4 linked regions of the Homo sapiens genome follow. The protein of the gene in region 4 purifies or fractionates together with the protein of the main gene of each other region. This does not show direct contact. Each region holds a gene or a part of one and is shown on either strand. Other genes may lie near its edges.

Region 1 (7,027 bases), on a different chromosome or scaffold from region 4:
CAGCAATCCTCTACGTCCATAAATCATCTTCTATGGCACCATTGTTAATGTCTATTTAGTATTTCATTATATTGGTATTAATATATCATAATTTGCTTAACCAATTTTAGTATTGGACATTTAGGTGTCTCCACATTTTTACTATTAAAGCAACTGTATCTTTGTATCCAAATCTTTGCATAAATAGTTAATACTTTCTACGATAAATCTCTAGAAATGGCATTCACTGGATCGAAGAGTGTGTACATTTATACAAGTTCCTAATATGTGTACACAAATTACCCTCCAGAAAGTTTGCACCACATTGCATTTCCAGTTTTCAGTTCCCTGCTCTAGAAGGAAAGGAATTAGAACCAGCAATCCATCTTTTTACATCAGGTTTACTTCTCTCACAGGCCAGCTTCCAGTGTTTTGCTGGAGCCCATCTCCCTTCACCTTCTCAGGTACCTTTCTGCCAATTTATCCTCTCTCTCTCCTTTCAATATCAGTCCTCTCTCCTTTTCTCTCCCTCACCAGTGACTTTCATGTTCTAAATCTAATGGACAGCTTTTATTGACTCATCAGGATTTGACTTGAAACATTATTTTTCCAGACAAGAGAATTCAGAATGTTTAAGTTATTGTTATATTTAGACGTACTACTTTTCTCTCCTTCTCTGGTCAGTCCTCAGTCTCTTTGCTAGATTTCCCTCTTCTATTAGAATTCCTGAGAACTTGCTTCTGGGCTCTCTATTCACTTGCTCTATTTATTCTTTCATTCTCATGCCCTTAAATGCCATCTGTGGTATGAGGTGAAGAGCCCCACATTTATATCTCCAGCCCAGTCCTGATTTTTCAGACGTGGGTGTCTCCACTGGAGTCTTTCACAGGTATCTCCTATTTACTGTGTTCAAAACCGAACTCTTGATATTCTTCCAAATCTCTTTCAATTCTCTCCATTTCAGCAAATATCTCCATTTCACTCATTTGCTCAAGCTGGAAATCTTCTCTTTTCCTCCGTTAACAACATCTGCATCAGCAATCCTGTTGCTTTTGTCTCCAAAGTGTATGTTGAACCCATCCTTTCCTTTGTCTCCCCTGCTCCCTCTATAGCTCCAGCTACCATCATCCCTCACCTGGTCTATTGTGAGAATCAGTTTCCCTCCTTCCATTGTCTCTGGCTTCCTCTTAGTCGTTCTTGACACTCTAGCCAGTGTCAGGCTTTTTTTTTTTTTTTTTTTTTTTTTTCCCGAGATGGGGTCTCACTCTGTTGCCCAGGCTGGAGTGCAGTGGTGCAGTCTTGGCTCACTGCAACTTCCACTTCCCGGGTTCAAGCAATTCTCCTGCCTCAGCCTCCTGAGTAGCTGGGATTACAGGTGCGTGCCACCACGCCCAGCTAATTTTTTGTATTTTTTTTTTTTTTTTTAGTAGAGACGGGGTTTCACCGTGTTAGCCAGGATGGTCGTGATCTCCTGACTTCAAGTGACTCGCCCGCCTGGGCCTCCCAAAATGCTGGGGTTACAGGCGTGAGCCACTGCGCCCGGCCCTTTTTTTTTTTTTTTTTTTTAAAGGGACCAGATGATGTCATTTCCTTGCCAAAAGGTATTTAAAGGGCTGACAGCCTGGGTTGGAGCTGCTTGTGGTAGGGTTTGAGGATGATGGTCCTGGGTTGGAGCTGCTTGTGGTAGGGTTTGAGGATGATGGTCCTGGGTTGGAGCTGCTTGTGGTAGGGTTTGAGGATGATGGTCCTGGGTTGGAGCTGCTTGTGGTAGGGTTTGAGGATGACGGTCCTGGGTTGGAGTTGCTGGTGGTAGGGTTTGAGGATGATGGCCCTGGGTTGGAGCTGCTTGTGGTAGGGTTTGAGGATGATGGCCCTGACTAGGATTGAGGTGGCATTTCTTGCTTTTTCTGCTACGACTGCCAAGGCCTCCACCCTCATCCTCATGAGAGGAAATAGAGAGCCCTGGAAGCCAACATTTGCATCAGAGAAAAAGTATATAGGGCCATGGAAGCCAACTGCAGCTGACTGCGCAGTCCTCCGGTACCTGCAGGCAGTGACATTGCCTCAACCTTCCAATATGCCCAGGACAACAAAATTGACCAGAAATCTCAGGTAAGGTGTCCTTAGCTAGACCCAGGGATGCATACAGAGTCCTTTGCAGTCAGTCATTCACACAGAGAAGCAAGGCAACCAGATGATCCTGCCAGAGAATCTGGCGAATATGGTACCATCTCTTTCTCAGAATTGTATTATCCTTATGTGTTGCAAAACAGTCTTCTGTATATTTTGATTCTAGGTTTCAAGCTTATTTTGCAGCATGTAACAGGAATTTCTGTTGAAATTGGGCTGCTGACAACTTTTATGAATGCAAACAAAAGCATTGGCAGTCACGCTTTTCTAAGAGAAAGATTCTCAAAGATTTAGTGTGCTTGGTTATTGGTGTTATTAGCATGATCTTCTGTTCTTCTATGTCATACCTTTTGTTTTCAGTTGCTTTATTACACCTTAATTTTTTAAAAGCCTTCTTTGGACTTTTTGATGTACTTCGGATTGTTGGAATAACTGATTTCATTCTGAAATTCCTTTACATGAGTTTAAAATGCTTTATTTTATTGGTGACTTCTTCGATTATGCCTTTTAAATCCAAGGATTACTGTTATGTGCTTTTAGAAGATTTATGTCAGTATTACCAGATTTTTGTTCACATACCAGTTTGGTTTCATTACCTTATTGGCTATCTGGAGTCTAGTAATGTAACTGAATGGAATCTTGGGATATTATCGCTGGCTTTACTCTACATCATTTAAAACTTTTGGCCTTTTTATGGACATCTGAGAACTTTCAGGTGGGTTTTATGAATATTTTTTACATGATCAAGTTACGGAGTTGCTTCCAGCAAGAGACGTTTTCAGATGTGGATGATATTTGTTCAATATATCAAGCTGAATTTCAAAGCCTGTTCTTAACTGTCAGCATGTGTTTTGTCAAGAGTATGCTACCTTATGGTCTAACAGAGGGCAAACATGGGTGGTCAATCTAAATCTCATATGACCCATTTCACTTAGGTTATAGTGACATCAGAATATGTGGGTGTGTGTATATATGTATATATATATATATATATATATATATATATATATATATGCATTAGAATGGATTTTTCAGTGCTAGAAGTTAAGAAAAATGTTTCCACCAAATATTTTAGAATATTATAATAAAGTTTAAGTATGTTGTACAATTTTTAAAAGATTAAATGAATGAAAGAACCCTGTGTTAAAAAAAATTATGTTCAGCCTAATGTGTGTGTCAGCAACATTTATTCTATCTTAATTGACAGATGATTGCATTGTTAAACTGTACATGTGTACTCTTGTGTTACCAAAACAACTGGGTAATTAGAACTAGTGATTTAGAGGAAATTAGGTATCTTTTCCTGACAATGTTTTCAGAATAAAGGATATTTTTCATAATATTTTAAGATACTTGTTATCTGAAAGTAGAATTTTCTTTAGCATTGGTATAATTCCCATTCTCACAAATTCTTAAGATCTTCATAACATTTGTATTTTAAATGAAAATTTTAAATGCTATGTTTTATGTGTAACAGATTTCTAAGCCAAGATTAATTTATTGAGATGACATTTTAATATTCTCTGTAGGATGGTTAGTAAATTTTTAAGACGTCTTTAGAGGTTTTCATTGCACTTTGGATAAAATCTAAAATTCTTATCATTTTCTACAAATACTTCATAGTTTTTCTTGTGCCTATCACTCCAGCCTTGTTTGATGCAATTTTCTCCCCTGTTCATCCACATAGGCCTTCTTAGAGTTTGTCAAGGGCTCTAGTTGTCTACCTCAGAGCCTTTATGTTGCTGTGTCCTAGCCTGGAATACTCCCCTTCTTTCTCTACCTTTCCTGGCTATCTCCAGTTTACCTCTCAGTCTCAGCTTAAATATCAGTTCTTCTGATAGCCTTCCCTGGTTCCCCATCAATCTAAATTAAGTCACTTCTGCTACTCTTTCTTATTATGCTTTCACATTCCCAGTTTATAGTTACATTTATGTGTATGTGAGTATATATTTAATATTGGTCCCTTAGACTGAAAGCTCTGAGAAGAAAGGGGAAATGACTGTTTTGTTCACCATTTTATATGTAGAACCTTTTGTAATGCATAGCACAGTGTACACATTTCATAAATATTTGTTAAATGAATGAATAAATGAGTGAATATAAGATTCTGTGTAATCTAGTAAAAACCCATTTTCAAAGTCTATGCTCTTTTGATCCCTTGTAAGCTGTAGAGTTTTCAATCTGTAGGCCATAAATATTTCTATTTGTGGTCTTTTGGAAAGGAATAAAAAGCAGTGATGATTATTAATATATGTAATGTATGAGTAAACAATCTTCATTTATATATTTTGCTTTATTTTACCAGAATATCTTTGCAAGGGGTATGTGTTATTGTTCATGTTTATACCATGAGAAAAATATATCAGAATGGGGCATACTTAGAAAAATGATTAATACTGCCCAGGAATACAAAAAGAGTCAAAATCTTATAATATGTCACTTTTACATATTTATCATAGTAGTTTGTTTTGTTTTGTTTTAGATGATGCAAAATTGAGGGGCCTTGCAGCCCCCAGTAACCTTTCTATGAATCAGACTCTTGAAGGTCATAGTGGTGAGTCATTCAATTTCTTTTAAGTCATGTTTGAGTGGTATTTAGGCATTTAGAAAGTTTCTACTTAATGCAGAAATGTCAACATTTTAAATAATGGTAATATTTACAGTACAGATGCTCTTTGAGTTACGATGGGGATATGTTCCAATAAACCCATTGTAAGTTGAAAATGCATTTAATACACCTAACCTACTGAACATCGTAGCTCTGCCTAGCTTACCTTAAATATGCCCAGAAAACACTAGCCTACAGTTGGGCACAATCATCTGACATAAAGCCTATTTTATACTAAAATGTTGAATATCTTATGTAACTTATTGATTTCTGTACTAAAAGTGAAAAACAGAATGGTTGTATGGGCACTCGAAGTACGGTTTCTACTGAATGTGCATTGCATTCCCATCACCGAAAAGTCATTTAAGTAGTACCATTGTAAGTTGGGAGCTGTTTGTAATCATTTCTGTTGAGACATAAGTAATACAACTTAGAGTCATTCAACTTTTACATGATTAAACAACATCTTAAATAAATCTAGAAGAAAATAGCTGTTTTTAATATATTGAAAATACTCCTGTCTATGGATGTTGTATATATAATCCTTTTTAGAATCTGTCCTATGATTCCAGATTAAAGGAGACTGAAGAGACTGGGTGTAGTGGCTAACACCTATAGTTCAAGCACTTTGGGAGGCCAAGGTGGGAAGACTGCATGAGGCTGGGATTTTGGAACCACCCTGGGCAACATAATGAGACCCTGTTTCTACAAAAAATAAAAAAAATTAACCAGGCGTGGTGCTGTGTGCCCGTAGTCCCCAGTACTCAGGAGGCTGAGGTGGGAGGATCGCTTGAGCTCATGAGTTGGAGGCTGCAGTGAGCCATGATTGTGCCACTGCATTCCAGCCTTGGTGACAGTGCAAGATCCTGTCTCAAGAAAAAAAAAGACTAAAGACTGAAGATGTATAACAACTAAATGCACTGTATAATCCTAGATTGGATCTTGGAATGAGAAGAACAAGTGTCTATAAAGGACATTATTTGGACAATTGGTAAAATTTGTATATGGACTGTGAGTTAGATAATAGTATATCAGTGTTAAACTTCCTAATTTGTAATATGATTATGGAAGAGAATGTCTTTATTTTTAGGAAATGTACACTAAAGTATTTAGGGATTAAAAAATTAAAAGTCATCAATTATTCACGTACCCTAGAGGTTTAAGATATGCTCAAGAGTGTTTTACTAATAGAATGGAAAACGAGTGAGAGGTGGGCAGAAGAGAGATTATAGGACATATCTACCAAAAATGATAAAAGTCCCCTAAACAAGTACTTGTTATGGTGTCCTTTGAACATCATTATTTTTGGGAGTCAGGCCAATTGAGTAAACCATGCTTGTATTTGTTTCTGTCATCAGGTATATGGTAGTTCTGGTAGCTAGCCATGATTGGTGTCTTTACTGGGATGAAATAGGGATAGATATGAAAAATAGTATTATGCATTGTTGTAGAAAATTAGTGATATCAATAACTGCATCTTATGAATAGGTTTTGAGGAATATTAAAGACTAGTTAGCTGTACAGGAACCATATTGATTTTAACATGATCTTGGTGTTTATATAAAAATGTGAATTTGAAATTAATTGTAACCTTTAAGTTTCTAAATTGTTTTATAATGTTCTAGGTTCTGTTCAAGTTGTAACATGGAATGAGCAGTATCAGAAGTTGACTACCAGTGATGAAAACGGGCTTATCATTGTGTGGATGTTATATAAAGGTATACTTTACTAGGAGAGATTATTTAATTTTTCACAAGTTGGCATCTGGATCACAGTATTTGGATGGGTAAATAACATCTCCAAAATAGACCCCTTTTACTAACAACAGGAGTTCATCCTGACTGCACAGTGATAATATTTCTGGATTTATTGCTGCCTACTTTTCACTTTTTTAAAACTTTAACCCTGTTATTAAGAAAGTGAATTAGGTGACTGTTGGCCATCTCCAAAATGAACTTAGACTCTTAGCAGAAGAATAGCTTCTACTTGAGATAAGTCTTTTTTTTTTTCCAGATTTCCAATAAGAATTACTTCTAGGTAGTTCCAGTTTATAATTACATTCATGTGTGTGTGAGTGTGTATTTAATATTGGTTCCTCAGTAGACTGTAAGCTCTGAGGGGAAAGGGGAAATGACTGTTTGTTCATTTTATACGTAGAACCTTTTATAATACATAGCACAGTGTACATGTTCAATAAATATTTGTTGAATGAATGAATAAATGAGTGGCTAGAGTTATCTCAGTAGATAAAAACACATTTAGTAAGAAGTCAAAGGGAATAATTCACTTCCTGCATGGGCCAGTTAGTTT
Region 2 (7,027 bases), on a different chromosome or scaffold from region 4:
TCTGGATCTCCTGACCTTGTGATCTGCCTGCCTCGTCCTCCCAAAGTGCTGGGATTGCAGCTGTGAGCCACTGCGCCCGGCTGGATTGTCATCTCAGTAGTGGCCCAAATGACATTTGGGTCAGCAGTGCCTTCTGTTTCTCCTTACAGAGGGCCAAGATGGGTCGCCGAGCTCAACAGGAGTCAGCGCAGGCCGAGAATCACCTCAATGGCAAGAATTCCTCTTTGACTCTGACTGGAGAGGTGGGTGCTAAAAAAAAAGAAAATCTGAAGAAATACTGTTTAAGAGTTAGTGATTCCTTAATGACCAAGGATTTGGTATTCCATATTTCTTCTCTTGAATGCCAACCCTTTCTCCTGTCTTGATTTGGGAATTCCCTTCCTTGGCATTTGTCCTTGTAGCAGGAAATGGAAGAACTTTTTTTCCTTGATGCCAGACTAGTTTCTGTGCATTTCCTTATATTCTTAATGTAGAACTTTTTATGTTAGCTGAAGCAAGGGACTGGGAAGTTTCAAAATCCAGTAGGATTCCAGGTTTTTATTTCCGCTGAATAAATGCCAGTGAGGCAGACTGGTGACGTAAGGTTGGATTACACAATTGGACATTGCTCTCGGTGGTGACCTGCGCTTTCTACAGTCTTCCGGCAGGAAGCAGATCATTTACTGGCCTTACTTTCCTGGAAACTTTTCCGAGTAGCCTGGAATTATGGGAAATGATCCAGCTTCTTTGTGGAGGGTGGGTAATTCTGATGAGCAATACTTTTTACTGCCAGGGCACTACTTTTGGCAGCTTACTCAGAGCCCCTTTTTACCTTCCTCTGTCCATTTGAAAAAACTTTGCAAAAGTCAGCCTCAGGGTCATCCTCTGCCAGAAGTTAGCTCTTCTCTAACCTCTCCAGGCTGACTTAGCAGTCCTTCCTTTCACTTCCCATAGTACCTATTGTGAACATATGCCATTATATGTGAATTGTCTTTTTACATGTCTGTCTCCCCCACCGGACAGTGAGTTCCCAGACAGCAGGAAACCTGGCTTCTAGCTTGCTGGCCCATAGTAGGTTTGCAACAGATGAAGAGACCCATGCTGAGAAGCCTAATGGGTCAGGCAGGTGCATGAGCAAATGAACCGGGTACCTGACATGGACACACTTCACTTACATATCACATAGGTAGGAATATTCTTCATTTTCGTAGGAAATGCATTCTCCACCACTTTCTTAAGCTCTCCACATGGCCTTGTCCATTTATCTTTCATTTTCTCCTTTTAGAAGTGTGGGTATGGAGAATCATTACTTTAAGATAACATCTGTGCTGGCCTAGAAAAACTAGCAGCTGACCCCTTGGCATCACTGCCTGGAAGAAACTAGGGGAGTGAGTTAGGGCAGGGGGACTGGGAACTGGAGGCCACATGCCCCCTCTAAAGGGACAACCACTACTTAGCCAAAGCTGGTTGGTGCTGTCGAGAATACAGGCCCAGTATTGCCAGATATGATTCTTCAAGAGATGCTGGCAGTCTAAAATTTTATGTGAAAGCAACACATTTTTAGAGGTTAGCACCTGATTAAGAAAACCTAATCACCATATGGACTGGATATTAAATCATCATATGGGCTGGATTTGGTCCAAGGATTGTCAGTTTGTAACTGCGGCCATGGCACCTCCATTGTGATACTTATTACATTGTATTCTAATTGTTTACATATCTGGTTCTCTCATAAGATATGAGCATCTGGAAGGCAGAGGTTGTGTCTTATCATCGTACCCTATTATCTGTCACAGTGCCTGGCAGAATAGGCCTGCAATTGTTATTGCGCAGGATGAGGTGGGGTCAAGTACATAGTGTGTGATGTACTTACACATTAGAAGCTATGTAGAAGTGTTATGGGGCCTGGGGCAGGGAGGTTGGGAGGCGAGGATAGTGGAGCATTGGAGGCACAGTTAGGAGAGGTGATATAAAGTAGGAATTTGGTGAAAGAAGATATACCAGACCCAACCCTGGATCTCAGGGAGCTTGAACTGCAGTGGTGTATGTATTTAAAGAGAAAACGCGGAAGCAAATGACTGAGCTGATGGAAGCCAATTCTTGGCCTCTGGCACTTTACACTGTTCCACATGGGTCCAGGAGGATTAATTCCAACACCAGATCATTCATTCATTTACTCAACAACTATTTATTGAAGCACACAGTAAGTGCCAGGCACCATTTTGCAGGGTTGGCATATTTCAGTGAACAAAAGAGACAAGATCTCTTGCCATAATGGAAGTTACATTCTCGTGATCACTGGCACCCAGGAAGAATAATTAAAAGTCTACTTAAGGCTAGGCACAGTGGCTGATGCTTGTAACCCCTGTAACCCCAGCACTTTGGGAAGCCAAGGCAGGAGGATTGTTTGAACGTAGGAGTTCACGACCAGCCTGGGCAACCTTGTCTTTGCAAAATATTTAAAAATTAGCTGGGTTTGGGTGGCATGTGCCTATAGTCCCAGCTACTTGGGAGGCTGAGGCAGGAAAATTGCTTGAACCCGGGAGGCGGAGGTTGCAGTGAGCTGAGATCTTGCCATTGCACTCCAGCCTGGGCAACAAGAGTGATATATACATAAATATATAATTAACAATAAGAGTATATATTATATATATATATATAAATATTAACAAGAGTGTGTGTGTGTGTGTGTGTGTGTGTGTGTGTGTGTGTATGTATGTATATATATTTTAAAGTCTACTTAATTGTGAAGGAGGTTATAGCCACCTATGGTAGTTAGGTGAATGAGCCTGTGATGACCTCATTAGGCCTTGAAGCCTTATATGACCCCCATACCAAATCAGCTCCTAGGCTGGGGTCAGTGGGCCCTGCTTGCCTACCATCCACTTCCCTTGGCTCCCATGTGAGAATCATTGCTGTGAGAATATAACTCCATAGTCACAGAGTGTGATGAATCCTTTCAGGGTTTCAGCCATTCAGTAATACCTACTTATTTCGAGGTTTACCTTTTTTTAACTCTGTGCATTACCATTTTTGTGGGAGAACATGATGAAAAGTCATTCTGCTCTTCACCCAACTGTTGCCTCTGAAAGCAAGATGCCAGTTAGGATTCCAGGATCCCTTTCTCCCTGGGCTAATTGAGGTTTAAACAGTGTGGGCAGCCTCCCACGGGGCCAGATGCTCACTGTGCTGTGTGGGACTTTTTGGCTGTTTCTTTCTAAAATTAGATCCCAAGACTTGTGTGTGTGCCCATTTACATTCCGATTCTATTACTTGATATATTTATTTTTGTCCTCTTGCTGACTGTATTCTAGGATGAAGATATCCATGCAAACGTAAATATGGTACCTGGGAGCTGTCAGACATGCTGGAGTTACTTTAGACTTAAGTGGAAATTAGTTCAAACACATGGTTATTTTAAAGCGAGGTAGTGGAGTTGGGAGCTCTGGTGAAGGAAGCAGAAAGAACACAGGGCTTCGCACCAGAGGACTGGGTGCTAATTGCCTGGATTGTGATTAAGTCCACCAATCTCTCTAATTCTCCATTTCATTATCTGTCAAATAGTGATAGTAATACCACCAGGTTGATATGGGGGCAAGTGAGATACGCATTGAGACGCTTTTTAATAAACTGAAAAGCACTGTGCAAGCATTCATTCAATAAATTAGTGAATAAAGGCATATTGGGACAGCACTTTGCTGCTTTTATTAAAGGGCACCGAAGAAAGAGCATGCCAGCCAGAGTCTCTTAGAACTGATTTGGAAATCTGTTCACAGGCTACTACTCATTTATCCATAGGTTGGCTAGTAGGTATCCAGAGCAGAGGGTTTTTTTGTTTGTTTTTGTTTTGAGGCAGGGTCTTGCTCTGTCTCCCAGGCTGGAATGCAGTGGCATGATAATGGCTCACTGCAGCCTTGAACTCCCGGGCTCAAGCGATCCTCCAGTCACAGTCTCCTGGGTAGCTGGGACCACAGGCATGCACCACCACACCTGACTGATTTTTTTTTGTAGAGACGAAGACTTGTTATGTTGCCCAGGCTGGTCTCAAACTCCTGGCCTCAATCGATCCTCCTGCCTTGGCTTCCCAAAGTGCTGGGATTACAGGTGTGAGCCACCACACCCAACCTGGAGAAAAGTTTTTTTGCTTTCTAGTTGCAGCAGGCGTTTCTTAAGAGTCTGTAAAAGCACAGGCCTAGGAGTCATACCAGTCTGGGCTGAAATCCTGGCCCTGTCATACATTAGCTTCTGTGATACTGAGTTAATCTTGCTAAGCCTCATTTTCCTATTATTCCTGTTTTGGTGAAACAGGGATAATAATATTCCATACTTCATAGGATAGCTGGAAAGACAAAGTGATATAACCCTTAACTTAGTCTGACACACACATGCTCAGTATGTTGCCAACCATTATTATTTCTCTAGAACTTGGGCATTCTTTTTATTCCACCTTAACCTCTACTGAGGTTGAAAACTGGTGGCCTTCAGGCTGAATTTGGCCTATAGTCATGTTTTATGTGATCCATACAGGGTTAAGAATTTTTAAATTTGGTTCGCATTTATAAATCAGGAAATGTAATATGGAAATTCAGATTTGGGGCTTCTCTTTAAAATCAGAAGCCCTGGCACAGTGAGAATGCTGGGTTGACATTCCCACATGGCGGCAATTGGCTGGTGCTGCAGCTGCTGATAGCTTACATGCATCCATCCCTCTCCAGTTAACTGCTTAGTACTTTGATACACCTGGTCAGATTTACTCACATTTGATCTGCCTGGTTCCCATTTCCGTCTGAATTGAAAACTCCTGTCTTTTAGGATAGATTAATTTTTCAAGTGGCCTCCTCTATCTATCAGTATTGAATCTGGTTGCCTACAACAGAAACAACTTCAGTACTTGAATCAAACAGGAGCAATTTTTCTTTCACATAGCAAAGAGTCCAGTGGAGGGCAGAGCAGAGTGGGTGCAGTCACTGGAGCATGTCCTGCATTACTCTAGCTCCTTCCAGCTTCCTGCTCTGCTATCTGGAGCCTGTGACTTTTGTTCTCATGGTTGCAAGATGGCTGGTCATTCTCCTGGGATCAGATATGCATTCTAGGTGGGAAGAGAGGGAATTGTTGAAGAGTTCAAGGTGCATGCCAGTAAGAAGGGTGTACCCCTTCTTATCAGGAAAACAGTAGCCAGAGTCCTCACTAAGGAGAGCTCTAGTTTCATTTCATTGGTCAGAACTGGATCTTACAGCCACACTCTCAGTTTCAGGGGAGTTTTTAATGGGCACATTACCACACCATAGCATCGGGGTTTCTTGGTAAGGGAGGTGAGTAGAATGGCTCTTGAGTAGGCAGTTCAAAAATGACATGTCAATTTAAAACAAATAGAAATTATAGAAAGCCCTTTTTTTTTTTTGTAGCCCTGGGTATGAAGAGAAAATTATTTTAGCTTAAAAAAAATGTACATTCTTCTCCAGTTTTTGTTTTGGAGTTGAGTGAAAAAAAATTGTATGCCCTAAGTTCCAGGATATCTGATTCAGTGGCCTCTTCTTGATCTTTTCCTTCTGATTGTCTCCATACCCACTTAGGACGTGGTGCCAGTAGGATGCCTGTGGTTTGGTCCAGGTAATTAAACTCTTCTTCCTGCTCTGAGAGAAGAGGAAAAGTCTCTTTATTTGCTTGGTCATTCGATACATTTCAAATCACTTAACTGTCTAATTTTAAAATTTACCAGAAAGATGAACTCTTTGTGTGATTTTACTAGTTTGGAGTAGATTGGAGTTGTGTCTACTTTTTTAGGGTTGTTGTGAAGATCAAATGAGGTAATGCATGTAAAGTACTTAGCACGGTATCCGGCACACAGAAACCCAAGGAGAAATGATAAGTACTAAGAAAGCTTATGACTACATTTTTTGGGTGGGGTGGGGTGCACCTGTTGCAAATCAGGCTTGGATCACTAGAAGCATGGTTCAGCTAGCAGTTCAGGTTGGAATTATAGGTATTGAGGATTTTGCTGGAAGATAGTTCTATGATGAGTGTCTACATGTCTGTGATGTATAGCTTTCTCTAGGGAGGATGGGTCTGAGAGTTAAACCAGATTTCTCTGCTTGAGCCTTGACCTTCTATTGATTCAAATGATTGTGCCCTCACAGAACTCTTTTAAGGACAGACCCAGATGCTTTCTACCGAAAAGTTACCTTCTACTGAGTTTGGGCAAAAGTAATCTTTGGCAAAACCTCTCCAGGGCTAGCTCATCTTTTGGATGAGCATTTCTTGCTGGGATCTAGACCTGTTTTTGGCTTAGCTTTTATTTTGCAGATTGTCCTTTTAATAATCATCATCATAGCTTACATTGCAACAGTTGCTAGCTATCTGTTCATTACATGCAGTGTCCTAGTTGAGCCTTATGGTAGCTCTTGAAGTAGGTACTCTTATCATCATGTTGTACATGTGAGGACATGGAGACTTTAAGAGTCTGGGTAACTTGTCAGAAGCATTCAGCTAATCTGTGACTCTAGTTGAGTCTTTCTGACTCAAGTGCCTAACCTCTCCTACCTGCTAGATGGGAAGAAGCACAGACCTCCCAGTAGAGAAGAGGATTTTGGAAAGGGCGGAGAGACTTAGGGTCATTCCCTTGGGGTCCTTTTGGAATGGGAGTAAGTTCTCACTTGATCACCCTTATTCGTTCAGTGGTCTAGAGAAGTGTTGGAGTCACAGCTGTTCCCTTTCTCTCCCCCTATTCCCTTGGTGTTCCTCCGAGGACGCAGAACTGAAAGTTAGCCAGATTCCCTCGCAGGAATCTGAGAAATGCTGCTGGGCTCATGTTCCCAAATTAGGCCAATTTCCTCATCCCCCAGCAGCCTCACTCGGCCGGAGCTCCCTTGGCACTTTGCATTACGTCTCTCGCCCTCCGCCTGTCCCCTTACTGGTCTGCCAGCCAGGCAGTTATTTTCAGCCCAATAGGGTTATCTGCTGACCCTTTTTGGTGACATTTTTCTTCTTTCTCACAAAAATAACTCTCCTGATTGGTCACATTTTCCAGCGTTTTTCATAGCCGCTCTCC
Region 3 (7,027 bases), on a different chromosome or scaffold from region 4:
CAGCAGCATGTTGAAGGAGTTGGGCTGAATTCCATTTGTGCTCCCCCCCCAGTGATAGGGTGCCCACCTCATGGTTTTAAAACTGGTCACTAGAAAACAAGTCTGTTCCATCAAACTAAGTGGTGCTTATTGGCTTTCATTTTCCTGGCATCTGGATGAACCAGACTCTATCAGCAAGTCATGAGCCATAAACTGGAGAATGTTTTTTTGTTTTATTTTATTATTTTTTAAAAAATATTTTTCTTGAGACAGACAGGGTCTTGCTCTGTTGCCCAGGCTGGAATGCAGTGGCACAATTATGGCTCACTGCAGCTTTGACCTCCCAAGCTCAAGCGGTCTTCCTCCTGAGTAGCTGGCACCACAGGCACATGCCACCACACCCAACTAATTTTTTATTTTTAGTAGAGACGCGAGGCTGTACTTTGGGAGGCTAAGGCGGGAGGAATGCTTGAACCCAGGAGTTTGAGACCTGTCCAGCTTCCTAAAGTACTGGGATTATAGGTGTGAGCCACTGTGTCTAGCCAAGAATACCTTGTTCTATTGCAGAACATCTTGTCATACTGGGATTAGATATACTTTAATGACTTAAAACATAAATTGGTGTACAGAATGAAGATAGTTTTTATTGATAAGCATATACACATAAAATTTGTATCAACTCAGTAATTGTCAAGGAAGTTTTAATTCCTGAAAGATTTTTTTTCATAGAAAAATATTTCTCAAGATTCTTAGAGAGTGTCTAAGTCAATGCCAAGAGAAGTTTGGAAAGACTTTGAGAGAAGGCTAGCCCAGCATCTTGGAAGTAGAGGTGGATTTAGTTTTACATAGTTCTGTTGGAGGTGATAAAAGAGAAGAATTCCTTAGGAATCACTGTAGTGTAAAATACTATTAAAATCTCTCAAAAGCCTAGAACTGGGCTGGGTGCAGTGGCTCATGCCTGTAAATCCCAGCACTTTGGGAGGCCAAGGCAGGATGATTGCTTGAGGCTAGTAGTTCGAAAGCAGTCTAGAAAACAGAGACCCCATCTCCACCAAAAAAAAAAAAAAAAAAAAAAAATTATTTAATTAGCTGGGTGTGGTGGCGCTTGCCTGTAGTCCCAGCTACTTGGGAGGCTGAGGCAGGAGAATTGCTTTAGCCAGAAATTGGAGGCAGCAGTGAGCTATGATAGCGCCACTACACTCCAGCCTGGGTGACAGAGTGAGACTCTGTCTCAAAAACAAATAATAAATAAATAATCAAAGTTAGAACTCCAAGCGGTTTAGGGTTGCTACAAATTACAGGATAGATGTGGCAAGTATGTGTACTTTTGAGTGCTGCCTCTGGCCTAGGCTGCCTGGGTGGGGGTTTGCATTGAAGATCTGAGGCTGAATTGGGCTCCGTGGGGAAGCCTTGCATGGAGTCTTGGATTAACGATGCCAATCGTGGGGTCTACATTGGGTTAGATAGATGGATACTGAATGTGTAGGTATTTTCTCCCCTTAGGGACAGAAAGATCTCCTTGGGGAGGTCTGGGGGCACTTATTCTGTTGAATTTCCATGCAGAGCTGGGTTTGCTTCCTAGGAGAAACGGCTGCAGTGCCTGTCCTTCAGCGGAGTGAAGGAGCGGGAGTGGCAGATGGAGTCTCTCATTCGTTACATCAAGGTGATCGGTGGCCCTCCTGGAAGAGAAGGCCTCTTAGTGGGGCTGAAGAATGGACAGGTGAGTGCTCCCTCACGTCTCCTGTCAGGCTGATAATCTGCATGCACACGTGGGTGACCCGTCTAGCAATGACTCTGAGCTGGGTTCTCAGGGCAGGAAAAGGGCTTCTCTCCTCCATGGGTGAATTGTGGGGCAGCCTGAGTTCAGTTTTTTGAGGACAGCCTCAGGCCAAAGGTGCTGTGGCCCTCACACTCCTAGCAGGCCCACGTTTTGGCAGAGTTGAGCTATAACCTTTGGCTACATGTAGAGTGTATTAGTGGCTTAAGGTCTCCAGAAGGTGGGAGATTTGTTAGAGATGTTGCTTCTGTGGATTTCTAGAGGGAGGCAGAGATCGTTACCTAGGTCAGCTCCTGATTAGGGCAGCGAGTGGATTAAGGCAGTGCGTTCCAGCATGTGTCCTAAAGAATGCTGGGTCCTCAAGATACTGATAGATGTCATAAGCAAAATGGGCCCTTTGGCCAGTTAGATGTGGGATATCCAGGTTACACAAAATTCTGTGTGTGTGTATACATGTGTACACGTGTGTTCTTTGCTCAGCATAAGAAAAGTTCTAAGTAGGCTGCTACATGGAACTTTGAAAGTGACAATGTAGCTGCATTAGCCTGACAGCCAAGCTGTGCAGCAGATGGCTTATGGCTGAGGCTTGTCAGGTCTTTGCTGGGGATGGAAGTCACAGGGCATGAGAGCAGTGGGTGAAGTCAAGCAGCAATGCCAAGGGGAGGAAGGGCCGCTTATTTCTCAGGCAGCTCTCACTTCCAATGGGAGCATGGACTATGGGGTCAGGTGGGCCGGAGGTCGTGTTCTTACTTAGCTACTCACTGGCTTTGTCATCCTGGGCAGGTCACTTTACCTCTGTGAGGCTGGTTTTACATGAGGATAATACCACATATTTCATAGGGCTGTCAAAAACAGATATCATCAGGGTTGGGAGTTAAAGCCAATGTTAAAAACAAAACAAAACAAAAAAAACACCAGGGGTATTAAAACAGGCATGGTGGAGGGTACCTGTTTTCCCAGCTACTCAGGAGGCTGAGATAGGAGGATCACTTTGAGCCCAGGAGTTTGAGGCTGCAGTGTGATATGATTATACCTGTGAATAGCCACTGCGATCAGCCTGGGCAACATAGCAAGACCTTATCTCTAAAAAAAATTTTTTTTAAACCAGGGATATCAGTAAATGATAGCTATCATGATCACTATCATCATTATTATAATTTTCTACCACATGTCTTGTCAGTGTTCATAGTAGCTTTTTCCTGTGTTAGTTCGTGACTCAGATCTCTGCTAGGTGGCATCTCCTAAAGCTGCAGTTTGGGTAATGTCATCAACAAATCCCCAGTCCGAACAGACACTGAAGTGAGCTCGGCCTGTCTCAGGGCTGTCATTACTTCTGCAGCCTCTGATGAACCTCGCTTCTGGCCTCCTAAGGATAAGCCATTGCCCCCCACCCCCCTCTTTCTTTTGATGAGTCCTTTTCCCTGCACAGAGCTTCTGGTGAAGGTGGTGGGAGTTGTTCTTGCAGAGCACATGGGATTCCAACGGCCTGGCAGTGGGCCAGGATCTTGTTGCCATGGTGACTGACACTGTTTTCGCTGAAATTTTGCCAGATCCTGAAGATCTTCGTGGACAATCTCTTTGCTATCGTCCTGCTGAAGCAGGCCACAGCTGTGCGCTGCTTGGACATGAGTGCCTCCCGTAAGAAGCTGGCCGTGGTAGATGAAAATGACACTTGCCTGGTGTATGACATCGACACCAAGGAGCTGCTTTTTCAGGTGAAGTCCCTGAGGGGGCCCAGGGACATCATCCTTTGATTAGAGACTCTCCTCTAGCTTCCCAGTCCCTGCAGGAGGCTCTCCTGCTCTGGCCCAGGCAGGTCTCTGGGAGGGGCAGGGGCCAAGCACATGCACAGAGTCCCAGAGGCCCTGGGCCACAACCTGCTCCTCCCACACAGGCACAAGCCGCAGGGCCTGGACCGGCCTCTTTAACTTTGGTTTCCTTGCCAATGGAAACCGAAGGCTCTGAGCCAGCAGAGCCTTTCTTAAGCGTTTACCATGAACAAGAAATGGGGCAATGACTCTGAGAGGGGTGTGACGTTGGCACTCAGTGAATGGGGCGATGGATGCACTTCCTTTGCAGAAGTCTGTGTCTCACCTGCTGCAGGCCTGCCTGTGTCTATGCGCACCTACAGCGTGGGAAGGAAACAGGATGTTTTGTCATCTGAAAGGGGGAAGGGGATGGGCAAGCCTGGCCTTCTACTTAATTCACAAGAATGCTAGAAGAGCCAGCAGAATGCGAAGTGCTTGGATCTTTGGGGTTGTAGGCGTTGTTCAGTGGAGTCATCCAGCCCTGTGGCCTGAGGAAGTGTGTCACCAGAGAAGACAGCCCGGCAGCTCTGTGCCCCGGGCCTGGTTGGCTTTCTGCTGGGCTCGCGCCATTCTTTCTCTCTTTAGGTCTTTGTAGGTGGTCAGGACTGGTTTTCCAGAGTGAAGTTCCCCCCAAAGCTGGAGCCCCTCCTGACTGGTTTCCTCGGCCACTGCAGGGTTTCCTGATGTTATGGGCAGATTCAGTCCCCTTACCAGGCTCCTCCTTGTTCTCAGCAGCAGAATCGATGGGGGAGGGGTCTGGAGTGGGGAGCAGCCTCAGTCAATTAGAAGGAGTTACCTGGCCACCTCTAGCCCAGAGGTAACTCCATGTCAGTCTCAACTCACTCATGTCCTTGAGAGAGTAGAATGGTTTCGGGGAAAGAGAGGGCATAGCCTTCAAGCTGACCTGGGCTTGGGTCCTGCCTGCATCCCTTACTGTGTGATCTTAAGTTAGTGAGCCTCTCTGAGCCTTAATTACTTTTCTCTAAAATGAAATTAGTAATTGCCCCTTACAGAATTGCTACAGGAATACACTAGATACTACAGTGCCTAGCTCAGTGTTGAGCACAAAATGGGGCCTGAAATGTTACTTCCCTTCTCCCCAGCCTCACCTCCCACCTATAGGGGGCATAGCTGGCCCCAAATGTGAATCTTGTGTCTGAGCCTAGAATCATACAAGTGTGGAAGGGCGTCTGTGCTGCCCCATCCCCACTGCTGGCTCTATGGCAGGCTAGGGGAGGTGATTCTCAGCCCTGCCAGGAGACATCAGCATTCCCAGCTGTAACATTGCCTGCTGGCTTTTCCTCTTCTCCACTGCCCCTCCCTCTACACATAAAACAGCTATATTGATTTTTTCTCATTATAAAAAACAATCCATGCTGATTATAAAAGATTTAGTCATTATAAAAGATCCTAGGCAGAAAGGTATGAGCATATTTCAGGAGAATAATTTTTTTTCAAAAGTAATACTTGCTTACTCAAAAATTCCAACAACACGCAGGTGCATGGAGGGGCTTGCCTCTGTTCATTTCTCTTGCCTCTGTTCATTTCTTTGTGGTCCCCTTTCATCCTTTTCCCTCCATCCCACTGTAAGCAATTTAGTGGGATTCAGTCTTTAAGAGGGTATTGGGCTGAAATGTGTGAGCGCTGACCAAGCCCAGGGTGGTTCTCACAGGATCCCCACTGTCCCTGTTCCCCAGGAACCAAACGCCAACAGTGTAGCTTGGAACACCCAGTGTGAGGACATGCTCTGCTTCTCGGGAGGAGGCTACCTCAACATCAAAGCCAGCACCTTCCCTGTGCACCGGCAGAAGCTGCAGGGCTTTGTGGTCGGCTACAATGGCTCCAAGATCTTCTGCCTCCATGTCTTCTCCATTTCTGCCGTGGAGGTGCCGCAGGTAACTGGGGGTGCCTGTCCACTCTTAGCACTGGCAAGGCTGACAAGACCAGGGAAGCTGGGCCCTTTGCTGGTGCTTTGGGGAGAGAGTAGCAAGGAGAGAAGAATGGCAGCTGTGAGGTCGTGGGAGGCAGTCTGGGCCTGGAACCTGCCGCCCTGTCTCCACTCCTTGCAACCTGTGTGACTGGGGGCAAACAGCTCAACCTCCCTGAGTATCAGTTTCTTCCTTGTCCCCTTTCTGTAGGGATGGGAGGGGTATGCAGTGTTGTCAGCAGCGTGTGTTTTGCAGAGAGCCCAGCGTGGGGCCGAATGGAGTGAGCAGCAAAGCCGGGAGTCCGGCAGGGTGTGTGTGTGAGTACGTGTGTGATGGTGGTGATGTGTGTGTGAGAGAGAGGGGAGAGAGAGAATGAGTGGGTGGGGGGTGTGGGCTGAGGTCTGTGAGCCAATAAGGGAGCATGGGACTCTGCACAAGCTCTCTGAACCAGGAGGTGGCCAGAACAGAAATGGGGCACTGAAGGGTGGAGCCACAGAATGGGGGAGGGCAGAACCACAGACAGGCGCCTGAGATTGACCTCCCGAATGCAGGATGGTCTCCCCTCCACCTTCTGCACCCCAGGCAGATGGTGCTCACTGTAGAATTGCCATAAAACAGAGACGTGCATAGCGAGAAACTGTAGCCTTCAGCATCCCATCCTCAGGACAGAATCACTCTTAAACATGTTGAAATACATCTGCTTAGCGCTTTTCTACGTGTATATATAATATATGCATAATATACAATTAGGAGCATGTGGTTTTATAAGAACATTTTTAAACAAAAGTGGAATCACACTGCAAATACTTTTCATGACTTTTATGTGTATACGTATTGCTACCTATAGATGGAACCTCAGATTTACTGTATTCCCTGAGCCTGGCCTGTAAACAAGACTTCTCATCCCTTCCTTTATGGCTATCTTCTCATTTCACCTCACATTCGGTTATGGCAGCCCCATCACTGTCTATGAAGTGCTGGCTGTACACTAGTCATCTGGCCTTTTCACTCAACAATCTCCTAAAGCATCGTTCTGTGTCAGTAAATGGTAAATGTTCTTATTCTGCATGGCAAAATTTAGGGTAATTGTAGACTCACATAAATTGTAGGAAATAATACAGAGATCCCTTAAACCCTTTGCCTAGTTTCCCCCAACGGTAACAGTGTGCATAGCTCTAGAGTGATCTTCCCACCCATGTTGGCATGTGTAATCTCCCACCACAGTCATGGCACTGAACACTGCCACCACCACAAGGTCCCTGGTGTTGTGCTTTTTACAGCCAGCACCCCTCCCTCCTGCCTGGTCCCCACCTGCCTTGTATTTACAGCTGCATTTTATTGTGTCTTGTGGATGTTCCACAGCTTTCTTTACCAGTCCTACTGGACATGTTTGCTGCTTATAGCTTTTTTGTATTATTGTAAATAGCAGGCATCTTTCTAGCTAGGTCCTTGCACCTGTCCCAACTTGGCGCCTTGGCATAAATTCCTAGAAATGAAATTGCTGGGTCAAAGCACGTGTACCTTTGAAAGACTTT
Region 4 (7,027 bases):
ATGTTGTTTCTCTGGGTGTGAAATGTTTGGGAAATGTACTTAATGTTGCCTAACCATGCTAATGTGTTATAGTAGTGACATTTGTTGGTTCTAAGTTTGAGTGTTTAATTTGATCCAGTAAAATAAAATATGTAACAAAAATGCTTATTTAAAGAAAGTTCGTAATGTGACATTGTAGGATAAGAGCATGGGCTCTGTATGTAGATAGACTGTCCAGCTCTGCCGTTTTTAGCTGTGGGATATTGAGTGAGGCTACTGTCTCTTAGCTCATTGTCTGTAAAATGGGAAATAATAGAGCTTTGGGAGTATTAGCTGAGCTAAAGCACATAAAATGATGAGTATGTAAGTGTTGGCTATTATTATTGTTTTTATTTCTGCTAATTAATGAAATCATAGTCTAAGATTTCAGTAATTAGTCATAGCAGAATTGCCTTCTTTGCCATTTCCCCTCCACAATTCTGTTTCCAGGCTGTCTGTGTTCTCTGTTGCTGGAGTCATAAGAATTTTGTAATTATATTTTTTTGTGAAGGGGATATCTATAGTGTTGAGGGATTCATTTCAAATAAGTTTCAGTTTTTGAATATCAATACCTGCTCAATTATCTCCCTATACATGCTGCCATTTGCAGCAGTCAAGTCATGCTTGTTATTAATCACTTCCACTGAGAAGTTAATTAGTGCCTTAATTAGGATCATCTTTGAGAAGTAGGCAGCATCATCCAGAGTCCGCTCCAAGTTATTGGCTAGCTCCAGCAAGCCCTTCTGGTCCTATGAAAACAGGCTGAGGAGGAACCTGTTCTGCTTCTAATTGTTTTTTTGTCCTCCTTAAAGAAAGCTGTGGAAGATCATCAGTTGTCTGTGATGCATCCATGTACTATCATACCTGCAAAAATCAGGAGACATATCTGCTTATAATGGATCAATCAGAAAACCAAGATGGGTTATTGAATTCTTGAGATTGTGCTTAACAAGCAGGAAACATGTTGCTGCTGTTCTTTGCAAGTGTTGAAAATTAGACCATGCATTCTGAATATGACAGAATATTTCACTTTTCTGCTGAAAGTTAAAGTACTTTCCTTCTGGCATTACTGTTTTTTAACATATATTTTTGAAATATTGCCATATTGTTACAGGATGAAATCAGTACTCCATTTTCTTTCTCTTTATCCCTCCAGGAAAATATGGGAAAATGAAGCAAAAGTAACATCTTATCACCTTATTTTCATATAAAAGTAGAAATTGAGTTGAGAATAAAAGGGACAGTCAGGTTACTCCAAAAACAGTACTCCTCCAGACATTTTGGGGGGACTCTTACGTTTGCAACGATAAAATAAAAATAAATGCACTAATGGCTTCTATTATGAGGAAAGGGCAATCCCTTGAGTCCAGTTCCCAAAGGAGGACAGGCATTGTGAAATGGATCTACATTACATGAGCATATTTGCTTCATTTTCTTCGACTTCTGGGCATTTAAATGATTTAGGTAAATTGTGAACTTTGCGAAAGGCTCAGTTGAAATGTTTTGTATCCAACAGATTTGCTGCTGCTTCCAGGAGAAGTGGAGCAGGATGTAAGCACCAGCATTCCTTCCTGTATCCCTTTTGTGGCCCAGCCTCCTACCTGTGAAGTGAAGCCAAAGCCCAGTGTTAAAAGAATGGACAAACAGACGGAAGAGGTACTCCACAGGGAATTCAGTCATTCTCCACACTGCCTTGATTTTGTAATTCATCCCTTCAAAGAAATGCTGCATGCTTCTGTATTTTTCTAACATTTGGGAAAATATAAAATTCAAGTTGCTTAATTGGTCCCTCTCACAGCCATCTATCTCAAATGCATACATTTCTTTTTAAACACATAGAGCAATTATGTTTTTATGTGGAAACCATTTTTGTTTTACAGTGTATGCCATGCCACAGATCAGTGCTACCCAAGGACTACACAATAGAAAGGACGGACAGTTTTCTTGCCCTTTTTAGTTTGAACTGGCCGTTTTTATTATTACTGATAAGGTTCTATAAACTTTTGAATTAGTTGAGGTAAGGCCAGGCTGCTATAACAGAGAATCCTAATAATAATTCAATGGCTGAAAAGAGATAGATGTTTATTTCTCTTATTTACAGCCTATATAGAGCCCTTAAAATGAGCAGGTGGCTCCTTTTTGGGGGGTCATCAGGGACCCAGGTTCCTTCTTTCTGGATGTCCATTATATTTTAGGACATTGTCCTCACCTGCGTGTTCCAGGTCAGGTCATCATCGTACCTGGAGGGGAGGAGAGAAGAACATGGGGGCAGCATGTTTCCCCAAGGCTTAGGACTCAGGGTCCTTAATGTCGGCTCACATTCCATTGGTGACCACTTAGTCACATGTTCATACTGGCCACAGGGGAGGCTGAGAAATGTCACCTAGAGATGAAAATGGAATCTATGCCATATATTTACTCTTGCAAATGTGCAACTTGAAAGTCATCTTTAGCTATCATTTTGCAGCTCTTCTACATATGCTTAATAAACATGTATCAATAGAGACTGTTGCTAGTGCTGGTAGTGACCTTTCTCACCCTCCTTACTGGAACACAAAGCAGGATCAGGCACAAGAAGTTGTTAAGGGCTCTTTATTATTGCTTTCTAACAAAATCCTTAGGGTCTTTTTGGATTATTTAATCATGAGGTACTAGTCTTGTTACTAAAAGATATTCTGTTATAGAATTAGCCATTCAGTCATAAATAATCCACACATTTCAGTTTTAAATTGCCACTTTCTAATAAGTACTTTTGTTCACTGACATCATGAAAGTATATCCAGGATGCGTGCAGGCTTATATTAAACTCCCAAATTGATTACTGGCTAAACTGGTAGGGACAGCCACTTTTCAATATGCTTTTTGAATTATAGATTGCTTTCTCTGAGTTGTAAAAAGCTAAAATTATAAGACTATTTCTAGAAGGACTCAATTTCTTTTTTAAGATTTGTTCATGCTGTTGACTTCACTTGTGGCCATAAAAGTTATTGGACCAGCCAGTAGACATGGCACCTAGTACTTTTATAGAAATACAATTTTATTTCAGTACAATTTGAGAATATATATAATCTAGTACAATTATAGAAATTGTTACAAAGTGGTTTTAATTAATGGGTTAAAAAAACTGAATGATTTCTGGAATCTATCAAATAGCAGTATAAATCAAGTTGAGACCCCATATATGGTGGTATATTTAAGAGGAATATAAATTTCCTACCAGACATGTGGACATTTTAAAATGTTGGAATCAAAATGATACAAGCCACAGATGAACAACTTCTGCTGTTTTTTGAATATCTGAAGTAACATCTTGGTTGGGAATTTTTATTTCTAATTACTATTTTTTAGAGTAACTTTTCACAACCGTCTAGAATCACAATACAGGTTGAACATTCCTAATGGGAAAATCCAAAATGCTCCAAAATTTGAAACTTTTTGAGGGCTGACATGATGCTCAAAGGCAATGCTCATTGGAGCATTATGGATTTCAGATTTGGGGATTAGGGATGCTCAACTCGTATATATTCTGCAACCCTTCCAAAATCTGAAATCCAAAACACTTCATCCCAAGCATTTTGGAGAAGAGATATTCAACCTGTACTGTACCAACACTGCCTTGGTTTGATAACATTCATCTTAAAGCACCCAGTGCTAGTAAAAGAACATAATCATTAGTTTATAGCAAATGGGTCCTGAAGGGCTTACTGAAAGGCCATTTTGGGATTAGAGATGATGGTTTCTTTCTGTGATTTCAATCTGAAAAGCTGAAAATGTATTCTGGATGTCCTTCCTAACTTTCTCTTAATTGCCTATTAAGATTCCATCAACTTTCTGATATGAATTGGACCAACTCAATGTTTTACCTAATTTTGTTTTTTTTAATTTTTAAATTAACATATAATAATTGTATGTATTTATGGGGTATAGTGTGATATTTTGGTACTATATATGTGTATGATCAAATCAGGGTAATTAGCATATCCATCACTTCAAACATTTAACATTTATTTGGTTCAGATTTTTTCCCTAATTTTACCACTGGTTCTTTTTTTTTTTTCCAAAAAAAAAATATATTTTTATTATACTTTAAGTTCTAGGGTACATGTGCACAACGTGCAGGTTTGTTACATATGTATACATGTGCCATGTTGGTGTGTTGCACCAACATTTACATTAGGCATATCTCCTAATACTATCCCTCCCCCCTTCCCCCACCCCACAACAGGCCCTGGTGTGTGATGTTCCCCTTCCTGTGTCCAAGTGTTCTCATTGTTCAATTCCCACGTATGAGTGAGAACATGCGGTGTTTGGTTTTTTGTCCTTGCGATAGTTTGCTGAGAATGATGGTTTCCAGCTTCATCCATGTCCCTGCAAAGGACATGAACTCATCATTTTTTATGGCTCCATAGTATTCCATGGTGTATATGTGCCGCATTTTCTTAATCCAGTCTATCATTGATGGACATTTGGGCTGGTTCCAACAATTTGCTATTGTGAATAATGCCGCAATAAACATACGTGTGCATGTGTCTTTATAGCAGCATGATTTATAATCCTTTGGGTATATACCCAGTAATGGGATGGCTGGGTCAAATGGTATTTCTAGTTCTAGATTGCTGAGGAGTCGCCACACTGTCTTCCACAATGGTTGAACTAGTTTACAGTCCCACCAACAGTGTAAAAGTGTTCCTGTTTCTCCACATCCTCTCCAGCATCTGTTGTTTCCTGACTTTTTAATGATCACCATTCTAACTGGTGTGAGATGGTATCTCATTGTGGTTTTGATTTGCATTTCTCTGATGGCCAGTGATAATGAGCAGTTTTTCATGTGTCTGTTGGCTGCATAAATGTCTTCTTTTGAGAAGTGTCTGTTCATGTCCTTCACCCACTTTTTGATGGGGTTGTTTTTTTCTTGTAAATTTGTTTAAGTTCTTTGCAGATTCTAGATATTAGCCCTTTGTCAGATGAGTAGATTGCAAAAATTTTCTCCCATTCTGTAGGTTGCCTGTTCACTCTGAGGGTAGTTTCTTTTGCTGTGCAGAAGCTCTTTAGTTTAATTAGATCCCATTTGTCAATTTTGGCTTTGGTTGCCATTGCTTTTGGTGTTTTAGACATGAAGTCCTTGCCCATGCCTATGTCCTGAATGGTAATGCCTAGGTTTTCTTCTAGGGTTTTTATGGTTTTAGGTCTAACATTTAAATCTTTAATCCATCTTGAATTAATTTTTGAGTAAGGTGTAAGGAAGGGATCCTGTTTCAGCTTTCTACATATGGCTAGCCAGTTTTCCCAGCACCATTTATTTAATAGGGAATCCTTTCCCCATCTCTTGTTTTTGTCAGGTTTGTCAAAGATGAGATGGTTGTAGATGTGTGGTATTATTTCTGAGGGCTCTGTTCTGTTCCTTTGGTCTATATCTCTGGTTTGGTACCAGTACTATGCTGTTTTGGTTACTGTAGCCTTGTAGTATAGTTTGAAGTCAGGTAGCGTGATGCCTCCAGCTTTGTTCTTTGGCTTAGGATTGTCTTGGCAATGCAGGCTCTTTTTTGGTTCCATATGAACTTTAAAGTAGTTTTTTCCAATTCTGTGAAGAAAGTCATTGGTAGCTTGATGGGGATGGCATTGAATCTATAAGTTACCTTGAGCAGTATGACCATTTTCATGATATTGATTCTTCCTATCCATGAACATGGAATGGTCTTCCATTTGTTTGTGTTCTCTTTTATTTCGTTGAGCAGTGGTTTGTAGTTCTCCTTGAAGAGGTCCTTCACGTCCCTTGTAAGTTGGATTCCTAAGTATTTTATTCTCTTTGAAGCAATTGTGAATGGGAGTTCACACATGATTTGGCTCTCTGTTTGTCTGTTATTGGTGTATAAGAATGCTTCTGATTTTTGCACATTGATTTTGTATCCTGAGACTTTGCTGCAGTTGCTTATCAGCTTAAGGAGATTTTGGGCTGAGACGATGGGGTTTTCTAGATAGACAATCATATCATCTGCAAACAGGGACAATTTGACTTCCTCTTTTCCTAATTGAATACCCTTTATTTCTTTCTCCTGCCTGATTGCCCTGGCCAGAACTTCCAACACTATGTTGAATAGGAGTGGTGAAAGAGGGCATCCCTATCTTGTGCCAGTTTTCAAAGGGAACGCTTCCAGTTTTTGCCCACTCAGTATGATATTGGCTGTGGGTTTGTCATAAGTAACTCTTATTATTTTGAGATACATCCCATCAATACTTAATGTATTGAGAGTTTTTAGCATGAAGGGCTGTTGAATTTTGTCAAAGGCCTTTTCTGCATCTATTGAGATAATCATGATTTTACCACTGGTTCTACACACATACATAATTGTATATAGAATTATGTGTATAGAATTACCTTGCCTTAGTTACTTTATTTTGATGAACTTTGGAAGTTTGAAGCTGCTTCAAGCTGCTTTGTTCTGTAGACAGAACAAAGAGAGTTGTTATTAGGAGGATGAAAATTTGTGATACCCACCCTCTCCCCGTGAAAACTGTAGGAGAGGTCATAGAAGAAACTTGTGTGGTATTTTAATAGGAGCTCTCCTGTTTTTCCAATTCATAATAGGACTCTAAAAATTTTCACCTATAAAGACAGTTTATTTACCATATTACTTTGTATAGTAGCCTACAGCTAAATGCTGCCATTATTGATGTAAGCATTAGTTCTATTTTCTTTAGTTTGCCTATGTGGTACTATGAATGAAAACAATCTCTCCATCAACAGTGTCTCTGTTAGAATAAGTCACATGAGAAATTTTAAGGGGACTCAAAGTTTTCCAATAGTGTACAAATTTTATTCCCTGAGAGGCTACAAAAAAGTTTCAATTAGATTTGAAATTAGACACCTGAAATCCACATATTTCTTTCAGCTCCTTAGGCAAAAATAACAAGTTAATAACTTAATTCATGGTTGTTTTTGTTTAGCAGCAGGGGACTTGGTGTTCCATTGCACAAAGTCTTTACTGAAATAAATCATAATTTCAGTTTG

The links.
Region 1: the proteins of IFTAP (region 4) and WDR35 purify together in Homo sapiens (affinity purification with mass spectrometry; 3 studies listed by BioGRID and IntAct, with this or other methods). This does not show direct contact.
Region 2: the proteins of IFTAP (region 4) and IFT43 purify together in Homo sapiens (affinity purification with mass spectrometry; 4 studies listed by BioGRID and IntAct, with this or other methods). This does not show direct contact.
Region 3: the proteins of IFTAP (region 4) and IFT122 purify together in Homo sapiens (affinity purification with mass spectrometry; 4 studies listed by BioGRID and IntAct, with this or other methods). This does not show direct contact.

What each region holds. Positions count from the first base shown.
Region 1 is NC_000002.12:19,980,099-19,987,125, reverse strand, and holds part of WDR35 (WD repeat-containing protein 35), read left to right. Parts: intron 1-2,079; exon of another isoform or gene 2,080-3,005; intron 3,006-4,591; coding exon 4,592-4,663; intron 4,664-6,342; coding exon 6,343-6,435; intron 6,436-7,027. UniProt on the Homo sapiens protein: As a component of the IFT complex A (IFT-A), a complex required for retrograde ciliary transport and entry into cilia of G protein-coupled receptors (GPCRs), it is involved in ciliogenesis and ciliary protein trafficking.
Region 2 is NC_000014.9:75,988,736-75,995,762, forward strand, and holds part of IFT43 (intraflagellar transport protein 43 homolog), read left to right. Parts: intron 1-149; coding exon 150-242; intron 243-7,027. UniProt on the Homo sapiens protein: As a component of IFT complex A (IFT-A), a complex required for retrograde ciliary transport and entry into cilia of G protein-coupled receptors (GPCRs), it is involved in ciliogenesis.
Region 3 is NC_000003.12:129,478,224-129,485,250, forward strand, and holds part of IFT122 (intraflagellar transport protein 122 homolog), read left to right. Parts: intron 1-1,542; exon of another isoform or gene 1,543-1,561; coding exon 1,562-1,699; intron 1,700-3,306; coding exon 3,307-3,471; intron 3,472-5,261; coding exon 5,262-5,459; intron 5,460-7,027. UniProt on the Homo sapiens protein: As a component of the IFT complex A (IFT-A), a complex required for retrograde ciliary transport and entry into cilia of G protein-coupled receptors (GPCRs), it is required in ciliogenesis and ciliary protein trafficking.
Region 4 is NC_000011.10:36,646,482-36,653,508, forward strand, and holds part of IFTAP (intraflagellar transport-associated protein), read left to right. Parts: intron 1-1,534; coding exon 1,535-1,674; intron 1,675-7,027. UniProt on the Homo sapiens protein: Seems to play a role in ciliary BBSome localization, maybe through interaction with IFT-A complex.